Linked DNA regions of Homo sapiens: region 1 is linked to region 2. Evidence: fine-mapped expression QTL. A gene starts in region 2. The other region holds a variant in brackets. All regions are shown on one strand. Distances are between the middles of the regions.

Region 1 (5,381 bases), 50 kb before region 2:
CCCAGGCTAGAGTGCAGTGGCTCAGTCTTGGTTCACTACAAGCTCTGCCTCCCGGGTTCATGCCATTTTCCTGCCTCAGCCTCCTGAGTAGCTGGGACTATAGGCGCCCGCCACCATGCCTGGCTAATTTTTTTTCTTTTGTATTTTTAGTAGAGACAGGGTTTCACCGTGGTCTTGATCTCCTGACCTCATGATCCACCCACCTCGGCCTTCCAAATGCTGGGATTACAGACGTGAGCCACCGTGCCTGCCCGATTATCATTAGTTCTTATAGGTTTAGGATAGGCGTACAAAGTACATTCTTAAGGGCATGGAGAATATTACAAAATACCTTCTTAAGGGCAGGGGAGAATATTACAAAGTACCTTCTTAAGGGCAGGGGAGAATATTACAGAGTACCTTTTTAAGGGCGGCAGAGACTATGTCATATCAGTTAGGGTGGGGCAGGAACAAATCACAAGGGTGGAATGTCATCAATTAAGGCTATTTTCACTTCTTTTGTGGATCTTCAGTTGCTTCAGGCCATCTGGATGTATACCTGCAGGTCACAGGGGATATGATGGCTTTGCTTGGGCTCAGAGGCCTGAGATCCCTGTCTTCTTATATTAATAAGAAAAACAAAACAAAATAGTGGTGAAGTGTTGGGGTGGCGAAAATTTTTGGGGGTGGTATGGAGAGATAATGGGTGATGTTCTCAGGGCTGCTTTGAAAGGGATTAGGGGCAGCATGGGAACCTAGAGTGGGAGAGATTAATGAGTTCGGTTTGCTGAGAAGTAGTGGAGGGGGGCAGAGTGGTAGCCTCAATGATAAACATGGAAAATACTATAGTATAGCCTGCCTTTGCTGGTGAGTGGCAATTAGCCCTGGTGGAACTGCCATCAATAAACCAAGTGTGATCAGGATGAGAAATAGGAAAGAAGGAAATATGGGGAAATGGAGTGACTGTCACATGGATGAGAGATACAGTCATGGGGATCAGGTGTGGTATCCGGAATAATGTGGGAGGCCAGATTGAAGTCTGGGCCAGGAGCAATGGTAATTGTGGGAGACTCAACAAAGAGGGAGTATAGCTGAAGGAGCTGAGGGGCAGAAAGTATATGCATCAAGTGTGAGGAGGAAAATAGATTTTGAAAGTTATGAGAACTGTAGAGAGTAAGTGGAGCATAGCTTGTGATTTTGAGGGCCTCTAAAAGTATTAAAGCAGTGGCAGCCGCCACACGCAGACATGGCTAGGCTAAAACAGTAAGGTCAAGTTGTTTGGACAGAAAGGCTACAGAGCGCGGTCCCGGTTCTTGTGTAAGAATTCTGACCACACAGCCCTGTACTTCGGCTGTGTGTAATGAAAAGGGTTGGGATGAGTTAGGGAGAGCTAGTGTGAGAGCAGCTTTTAGGGCTGTTTTTTAAGGAATGGAAAGGGGAGTAGGGGAAGGATTTAGGATTTATGGGGTCAGCTAGGTTTATCTAGAACAGAATAATGGGTTGTGGAGGGAGGTGTGGAGGATAGGAGAGTATATGGGTTTGGCACCACGGGGTGGATAGGCAAGACAATTTGGTTGATAAGGTTCAGATCCTGAACTAACCTGTAAGACTCGTCCGGTTTTTGGACAGGTAAAATGTGAGAATTGTAAGGAGAATTTATAGGCTTTAAAAGGCCATACTGTAGCAGGCAAGTGATATCAGGCTTTAATCCTCTTAAAGCCTGTTGTGGGATGGGATATTGGCGTTGAGCTGGGTAAGGGTGATTAGGTTTTAATGGGATGGTAAGGGGCACATGATCGGTTGCCAAAGAGGGAGTAGAGGTATCCCATACTTGTGGATTAAGGTGGGGAGATACAAGGTGAGGATGTGAAGGAGACTTCGAACTGGGGAAAAGGGCGGCAATGAGGTACGGCTGTAGCCCAGGAATAGTCAGGGAAGCAGATAATTTAGTTAAAATGTCTCGACCTAATAAGGGAGCTGGGCAAGTGGGGATAACTCAAAAGGACTGCATTAAGGAATGTTGTTCAAGTTGGCACCAGAGTTGGGGAGTTTTAAGAGGTTTAGAAGCCTGGCCGTCAATACCCACAACAGTTATGGAGGCAAGGGAAACAGGCCCTTGAAAAGAAGGTAATGTGGAGTTGGTAGCCTCCATATTAATTAAGAAGAGGACGGCCTTACCCTCCACTGTAAGAGTTGCGCAAAGCTCGGCATCAGTGATTGTCCGGGGGGCCTCCAAGGAGATCGGGC[G/A]GCATCAGTCTTCAGCTGCTAAGCCAAGAAGATCTGGGAAGGAGTCAGTCAGAGAGCCTTAGGCCAGAATTCCAGGGGCTCTGGGAGTGGCTGCCGGGCGAGTTGGACAGTCCAATTTCCAGTGGGGTCCTGCACAGTTGGCACATGGCTTAGGAGGAATCCCAGGCTGCGAGCATTCCTTGGCCCAGTGGCCAGATTTCCAGCACTTGAAACAATCTCCTGGGGGAGGCAGTCCTGGAGGAACACCTGGCTACTGTGGTTCAGACGTTTTGAAGTTCTTGTATGCTGGAGATGTGGCTGGGGTTTCTCTCAAAGTGGAGGCAAGTAATTGCAACTCAGAAATACGTTGCCACTTGGCTGCCTCTATTCTATTATTGTATACCACCTTGAAGGGGAGGTTAATTAGGTCTTCTTGTGGGGTTTGAGGGCTGGAATCTAATTTTTGGAGCTTTTTCTAATGTCGGGAGCAGATTGGGTAATAAAATGCATATTGAGAATAAGACAGCCTTCCTCTGGGGTCTAGGACAGTAAAGTGTCTAAGGGTTGTTGCCAAACAGGCCATGAACTGGGCTGGGTTTTTATATTTGACGAAAAAGAGCCTAAATGCTAACTCATTTGGGAGAGGTCGGATAAAGAAAAAAGGAGCATTAACCTTGACTATGCCTTTAGCTCTAGCCACCTCTTCAAGAGGAAACTGTTGGGCAGGTGAGGGAGGGCTAGTCGTGGAACGAAACTGTAAGCCAGACCGGGTGTGAGGAGGGGAGATGATAGGAGGATTATACAGTGGGGGAGCAGAGGCTGAGGAAGAATTGGGACCTGGCTCGGCCTGGTGAGGAGCAGCCTGGCGAGAAGGGGAGAGGTGAGATGAGTCCATAGAAAAGAAGGATTCAAAGGACTCAGAACTTGGGGTGGAGACTGAAGGAACAGACAGGAGAGAAAGAAGAAAGATTTGGGATGAGTCACATTGGGAACAGAGACTAGGGAGGGACTGATGTGTAAAAGAATGCCTGGACGTCAGGCACCTCAGACCATTTGTCCATTTTTCGACAAAAATCATCCAGGTCTTGTAAAATGGAGAAATCAAAAGTGCCGTTTTCTGGCTACTTGGAACTACTGTCGAGTTTGTACTGGGGCCAAGCAGTATTGCAGAAGAAAATAAAGTGTTTAGGTTTTAGGTCAGGTGTGAGTCGAAGGGGTTTTAGGTTTTTAAGAACACAGGCTAAGGGAGAAGATGGGGGAATGGAGGGCGGAAGGTTGCCCATAGTGAAGGAGGTGAGTTTAAAGAGAAAGGTAGAGACACGGAGAAGGGGCAGTGGGGGGCGGTGAGCAGCCCTGGGCTGCAATGTGGATGAGCAGCCAAAGCAGGTGTCCCCGCAATTGACCTGCCACTGAGGTAATGTGGGTGAATGACCAAGGCAGGCGTCCCCACGGTAATCAGACATCAATGGAGTGTGGGTGAATATTCAGGCAGGCATCGCCACAGTGATTAAACACCAAGGGAAGACTGTCTTCCCGAGTCCGTGACCGACGCTGGAGTTTTGGGTCCATGGATAAAATGTATCTCTTTTGTCTCTACTAGAGAGGAAAAAGAGCTGGAATTGGAAGGACAGGGAGATTGAAGGGTAGCAAGAGAGACTGGAGAACAGTGAAAAGACCGCTTACCTGATTTGAAATGGTGAGATGTTCCTTGGGCTGGTTGGTCTGAGGACCCGAGGTTGTAGGTGGGTCTCCTCATGGAGTGAGGGCAAGGACAGGGGACTGATCTCCCAAAGGAGTCCACCTGTCCCGGGTCTTTGGCACCAAATGTCACACGCGTCTGTGTGAAGAGAGCACCAAGCAGGCTTTGTGTGAGCAATAAGGCTGTTTATTTCACCTGGGTGCCGGCGGGCTGAGTCCAAAAAAGAAGTCAGCAAAGGGTAGTAGGATTATCATTAGTTCTTATAGGTTTGGGATAGGCATACAAAGTACATTCTTAAGGGCTGGGGAGAATATTACAAAGCACCTTCTTAAGGGCAGGGGAGACTATATCATGTCAGTTAGGATGGGGCAGGAACAAATCACAATGGTGGAATGTCATCAGTTAAGGCTATTTTCTCTTCTTTTGTGGATCTTCAGTTGCTTCAGGTCATCTGGATGTATACGTGCAGGTCACAGGGCATATGCTGGCTTTGCTTGGGCTCAGAGGCCTGACAATTTGCAAATGTTTTCTCACATTCAGTGGGTTGACCTTATATTTTTGTTGTAGTGTCCTTTGAAGCACAAGAACTTCTAACTTTGAAGTTTAATTTATTTATATTTTCTTTGGTTGCTTTCTGCTTTTTGTTCATATTTAAAAGACCATTTTTTAGGCTGGGCGTGGTGGCTCATGCCTGTAATCCCAGCACTTTGGGAGGCGGAGATGGGTGGATCACGAGGTCAGGAGTTCGAGACCAGCCTGGCCAACATGGTGAAATCCTATCTCTATTAAAAATACATAAATTAGCCAGGCATGGTGGCAGGCGCCTGTAGTCTCAGCTACTCCAGAGGCTGAGGCAGGAGAATCACTTGAAACAGGAAGGCAGAGGTTGCAGTAAGCCAAGATCACATCACTGCACTCTAGTCCTGGGCAACAAGAGTGAAACTCCTTCTCCAAAAAAAAAAAAAAAAAAAAAAAAAGATTCCTTAATCAAAAGTCATGAAAATGTACACCTTTGCTTTCTCATGAAGGTTTTATAGTGTAAGCTCTTACATTTAGATCTATAGTTCATTTTTAGTTCATTTATGTTTGTGTGAGGAAGGGGTCTCAGCTTCATCTAGTTGTACCAGCACCATTTATTGAAAAGCCTACTCTTTCCCCCACTGAATTGTCTTAGCACAATTGGCTGTAAACGTAATGTTTTATTTTTGGCCTCTCAATTCCATTCTATTGGTTTGTATGTCTATTTTTAATGTCTTGATTTTTATGTCTTGATTACTGTAGTTGTGTAGTGAGTTTTGTGATAAGTGTGAATCCTCCAATTGTTTTTCTTTCTCAAGATTATTTTGGCTATTTGAAGTTCTTTACATATCCATATGAATTTTAGGATCCGCTTGTCAATTTATGCAAAGAAGGCAACTGAAATTTTGATAGAAATTGCATTCGATCTATCACTAACTTGATTTAAACTTTTAACTAT
Region 2 (5,381 bases):
GATAAAACCTTCAGAAATGTCAAGAATATTAGTGCCAGTGGAAACACTGCAGGCAGAGAATGCAGATTTATACCTTGAATGTGAATTATCTTTGTGAAGACAAAGTGCTACCTATTTCTTATGGAAATTGCCCAATGTAACCATCATGTTACCGGGTTGCCAGCAAGTCTCATTGACAGTAATGCCATATTAGGAACCCAGCCTTGGAAATGTAGTCACACTCCACGTTGTTGCCAGGTTGGGCATTCGGCAATGATAGTAGCCAAATAATGTAGGTAAGGAGAAGACCATACTATTGAACCTCTGTCACTGCTTTGATAGCCACTTGGTACATGGGCCCATTAACCAAGCCCTGGGTTGGCTGGAGAAAAAGACTGACATCTACCAGACAATTCATCTTGTTCCGCTTATTATTGAAAATCTTCTCCACCTGATGCATCCTGTTAGGCACTTATGGGGGATATGAATATCTTCACATGCCCTCACCACTCCAAGAGGGTTATCTGTAAGTCTCACGGACAGATCTTTTACAAATTTTCCATTTTGTTCTTTCCAAGAACCTAAAAGCTGGACAATCCATTAGACACTGCCTGTAAGTCAGTATATTTATCAGTTTGTCATGTCGTCCCCTCCTTTCTTGAATGTGAATAACCAGGTATGTAGCTAGAAATTGCCCACTAGGAAGATTCGCTGTCCCCATTAGCAATGCACGGATCTGAAATTGTCTCACTTCTTTACATATCTGTCTGTCTCCCAGATTAGACTATAAAATCTCCATGAGAACTAGGACTGTGTCTCCTGTTCGCACAATATCCCTAATGTCTAGCACATAGAATATATTCTAAACATATGTGGCGTAAGTGATTGATGCATTTTCTTGAACATTTGGAGAGAAAATGTTAAGCAATTAAACTTGTAACCAATTTAAGATTTTTTTTAGTACATGTGACTGTATTATGAAGAACAATGCAAAATTTGGAGCAATTTACAAGAAGATGGAACAGTTCAAGTAAATTTGCCCATGACACTAGTGACTTCAGGCTCTTTTATGTATGCAACCTAAGTGATGAATAGGGAAGTACGTGTTTATGGAATCTGTCATTGGTGGTATTTCAGTGGGAAAATGTGAAAAGCTCTGATTTTGAAGGGTTGCCAGAGAAAGAGGAACAGGCAGAGGAAACTGAAAGAAGAATTTTTTTTTTTTTTTTTTTTTTTTGAGACGGAGTCTCACTCTGTGGCCCAGGCTGGAGTGCAGTGGCGCGATCTCGGCTCACTGCAAGCTCCGCCTCCCGGGTTCAAGCCATTCTCCTGCCTCACCCTCCCAAGTAGCTGGGACTACAGGCAGCTGCCACCACTCCCGGCTAATTTTTTGTATTTTTTAGTAGAGACGGGGTTTCACCGTGTTAGCCAGGATGGTCTCGATCTCCTGACCTCGTGATTCACCCGCCTCGGCCTCCCAACAGGCCTGAAAGAATTTTAACAAGCAGGATGAGCATAAAGGCAAAGTGGGGTTGTCAACATCAAGGAAACAGAGTGTTGGGAAACAATGGTCGACTTTGTCAATCGCCAAAGAGACTCCCAGGAAAAATGAGGGCAACAAAAGTATCAGTTGGATTTAGGAGGCCACTGCTTACCCAAAGAGTTCAGGTAGAATTGTTGGGAGGTGCAGTGGTTGGAGAATCAACTCCGTGAATAATGAATTGTGTTGACACGGTACATAATACGGTATTTCTGACTACATTGGCGGCATTTCACTAAGTAATTACTACCTGAAGTGCCTACCTTCAGTAAGGCATCCTGTTGTTGGATGGGGAAAGAGAAGGAGGAAATAACTCTTAGCTTTACCTGTACTGTGCTTCTGAGACCCAGGTATGGACCTTCACTCCCAATTTACTATCCATGGTCTCATCCGATGTTCAGTAACTGGGTTCTCCTTTGGCAGGGAGTAGGGATTGCCTGAGAATTAAAAGGGGAGGGGAGATTTCTGAACTGGACCTCTTAGGTTATGACTAGATTGGGTGCCTGAGGCAGCAATGGGGCTTTATAAGGCTTCTTTACGCTTCATTTAACTAATTGCTTTTTTGTTCTCTCTTATTCAGTGGAGTTCCAATCTGTTCGGTTGTGGAGAACGAACCTGAGAAAAAGGATCTTTCGCAGGGTAGTTTTTGGGGGCAGAGGCTGATGTGCTGCACCCCCTAATCAGGGGTATGGTTGGCTGCAGTAGTCAAGTGAGAGGGCCGCAAAGGGAAAGGAAAAGTCGAGACTATCTTAGGGAACCAGGAGAGTCGCTGTACCTCTGAAAGATCTACGGTTTGTCTGGTCTGTAAGGAGCAAACACGGTGGAATTCCTTTCCAGATTTTTCTGGGCCTCGACCTCTGGCTTTTGGGGTACATGCCAAAAAAAAAAAAAAAAAAAAAAGCGCAGGGAGAGTCCACTAGCCTCGGTGACAGTTCCCCATTGCGGTTTCCCCTCCTCCACCCTTCTTTGCGAGCTCCTTCCCTCTGCAGAGAGTTATCCCGCCACATTAACCCCTGACTCACAGCTGGACCGCCCCGGCCCGCAGCGCCACGTCCCGGGTGGGGCCTGCCACGGCAAAGCAGCAGTCCGGCCTCGAGCGGCCCCTCGGGGGCGGCGGGGTGGGCGCCAACAGCAGTCAGGCCTGACAAGCGGCGACCTCCAAGGGTGAGGCCTCTGCGGGCCCCCGACTCACGCGCGTCCGGGCTCTGCAAGCGCGGTGGGGAGCAGGCTGCTGTGGTCGCGGGGACTGGGTTGCGGCGCGCCGCGTACGGGACGGCCCCAAACTCTCGACGCCCGGGGCAAGACGCCCACCCCCTGGGCGCTCTCGCTGGGCCAGAAAGGAAGACAGAAAAGCCGCGGGCTGACTGTGGTGGCGCTCGCCTGCAGGCAAGTACCGGGCGCTAGGGCGGGGGCCGCCGCCGGGGGCGCGGGGTGGGCTGGGGCCAGGCCGCCAGGGGCGCGGGGTGGTCTGGGGGCCAGGCCGCCTGCGCTACCTCCCCAGCCTACCCGACCCGACGGCGCGGGTGCTGGCGCTGTTGTCCCCAGCGGGGCGGGCAGGCCTTTCCGTCACTTGGCTTACTCTGAAGGGAAAATCCACACAGCTGTCTGCCTTTTTGTTTCATTTTGACTAGAAAACCCATTTTCGAAAAGACACCTCAGAACCATAAGCAAATAGCCCAGAGTCTTAAATGCTCTAAAGGCTCTGCATGAGCCCCTGCCAGGCACACAGAGCCAGTGCTGGAGGTTTTGGCATGGGTTTTCCTACTTGGCTTTTTGTGCAAAGCTAATTTGGATAAAAATAATTTGACTGGCAGCTGTGAGCTAGTTTTCAGTGTATTAGGACCTCTCCAGCTTTCCACGGTAGTAAACTTCTTAAAGAAAGTATTTTAAAATATTCTCATATTTATTATTATTTTTTAATTTATCCTTTTAATTTTGAAAAGCAAGGGTGGGAAAGGCTATATGATCTGGAGGTAAAAATACACCATTATATAGAGTTGAAGTGTCATCCCCTGAACCCACATTGCACGTCTACACAGGAGAAGAACTTGTCCTTCTCCAAGTGTTTAGTATTCCTTAGATTAGTGTTTTTCAAACAAGCCTGATGGTAAGACGCATTTGGGACTTTTGTTTAAAATGCATCCCCCCACCTCTGAAGGTTTAATTTGGTAAGCTTGATTTCCAGAATCTGTATTTCTATTTTTTTATTGTTTAATTTAATTTTATGTTCTGGGATACATGTGCAGGACTTGCAGGTTTGTTACATAGATAAACGTGTGCCATGGTGGTTTGCTGCACCTATCAGCCCATCAATCCTTACATTTTAATATTTTGAAGTAGTAGGATGGTTATAAATGGAGTTAAGCAACTCCACTTTATATCTCATTCAAATCAGAAAATAGATAAGCAGGTATAGAATATTGACACCTACATTTGAAGCAAAGTAAATGTGACATGTACGCCTTACCGTATGGAACTTGAAGTATAAACCATGTTTACACTGTTGAATCATGGGCATCTGTGTTGAGTCATTTGTTCCTTATGCTATTCTTAAAATGTATTCATTTAACAAATATCTGCTGTTAAATCTTCTGTCTTTAATCCCCCCTAGACCACACATCCCATTCTAGGTCCCGCTCCCCTACTTTGCTTCTTTTTATAACAAACAAAAATCCTCTTTGAAAGATTTAATCTAAGTCTCCATTTTCATTTTCCCTGTTTCTTCCTACCCCCTCTCATCTGAGGCTTTTTGTCCCCATTACCCCCTGCATGGTCCTGATGTTGCCAATGACTGTCTTGTGAAATCCAGTGTCTGTGCACAGTTCTCATCTTTCCTGACCCCTCAGTAACATTTGATCACTCCCTCCTCAATATTCTTTTTTCTTCACTAATGTTCTTCACTAATATTCTTTCTTCTTCACTTGGCTTCCAGGTCACCATATTCTGCATTTCATTCTGCTTCATTGTGTCTCCAGGCTTCCCCACCACTAAATCTTAGTATGCCACAGAGTTCATTTCTTGGCCATATTTTTCTAGCCATACTTTCCCCCAGGACAATTTGTATCCCAAGCCATATTCCTTGGCTATAAATAATATCTATCAGCTGATGACTTCCAAAATTTTATTCCTAGCTTTAGTTCGCTTCTGAGCTCCAGATGTATGTGTATGTCCAGCTGTTTACTCAGCATCTCCACTTGGAAGTCTGATAGGCATTTAAATTTAGTATGGACAGATAGAACTACTGATGCCAGATTCACCAAGTTCTCCCTCTGTTTCCCCTCAGCTCCCTCCCTTATCTCAATAAACAGCCTCAGTTACTGCCATTCAAGTAGGCCGGAATTCTAGGAATTTACTCTTGACTTCTCTTTTTAGGTCAGACTCCGCATCCAAGCATCCAACAAAATCTGTTGACTCTACCCAGATCTGCCCACCTCTCTCTCCCTCTCTAAGCTAAGCCACAGTCCTCTCCTACCTACATGATTGAGAAGTCTCTGCCTCTGCCCTTGCTCCTCTACAGTCTTTTCCAAATAGCAGTGATTTTTGTCATACATACTCAGAACTTTCATTTCCCTTCAAAACCTTCTGGTGGCTTCTTATCAGAATCACAAAAAAAAAGAAAGAAAAAAAAAAGAAAAGAAAAACAGGCTTACAATGGCTTTAAAGCCCTGTGTGATCTAGTCCCTGACTAGTTCTCTGAACTCATCTCCTGACTTCCCTCTCATCCACTCCACTGTAGTAACACTGATTGTGCTGCTGTTGCCTTTGCCTGCAGCTGGTGTCTGCTAGACCATTGCACACTGTACTCCCTCACTTCTCTGTTAGCATGCTGCCTCAGGGGTTACTGTGCTATTGCAGCAAGATC

Evidence for each region. PIP is the estimated chance that this variant, and not a neighbour inherited with it, causes the effect. A credible set is the group of variants that fine-mapping cannot tell apart.
Region 1: its variant is the best candidate, but not a certain one, in a credible set for the expression of TICAM2-AS1 in tibial artery (GTEx, PIP 0.85).

The regions. Positions count from the first base shown.
Region 1 is chr5:115,649,857-115,655,237 of GRCh38, reverse strand. All of the region lies in intron 3 of LOC102467217 (a long non-coding RNA gene), which reads left to right. Among named protein-coding and RNA genes, the nearest start is that of TMED7-TICAM2, 27 kb to the right of the region's middle. The variant G/A (reference allele first, on the strand shown) is at 2,227.
Region 2 is chr5:115,599,621-115,605,001 of GRCh38, reverse strand. It overlaps TICAM2-AS1 (TICAM2 antisense RNA 1), which reads right to left and starts at 2,847. Exons shown (of 3, transcript NR_109875.1): 1 at 2,542-2,847; 2 at 1,846-1,956. All of the region lies in intron 3 of TMED7-TICAM2 (TMED7-TICAM2 readthrough), which reads left to right. It overlaps TICAM2 (TIR domain containing adaptor molecule 2), which reads left to right and starts at 2,523. Exons shown (of 2, transcript NM_021649.7): 1 at 2,523-2,905. RefSeq lists a silencer at 2,532-3,031 and enhancers at 2,651-3,173, 3,122-3,201.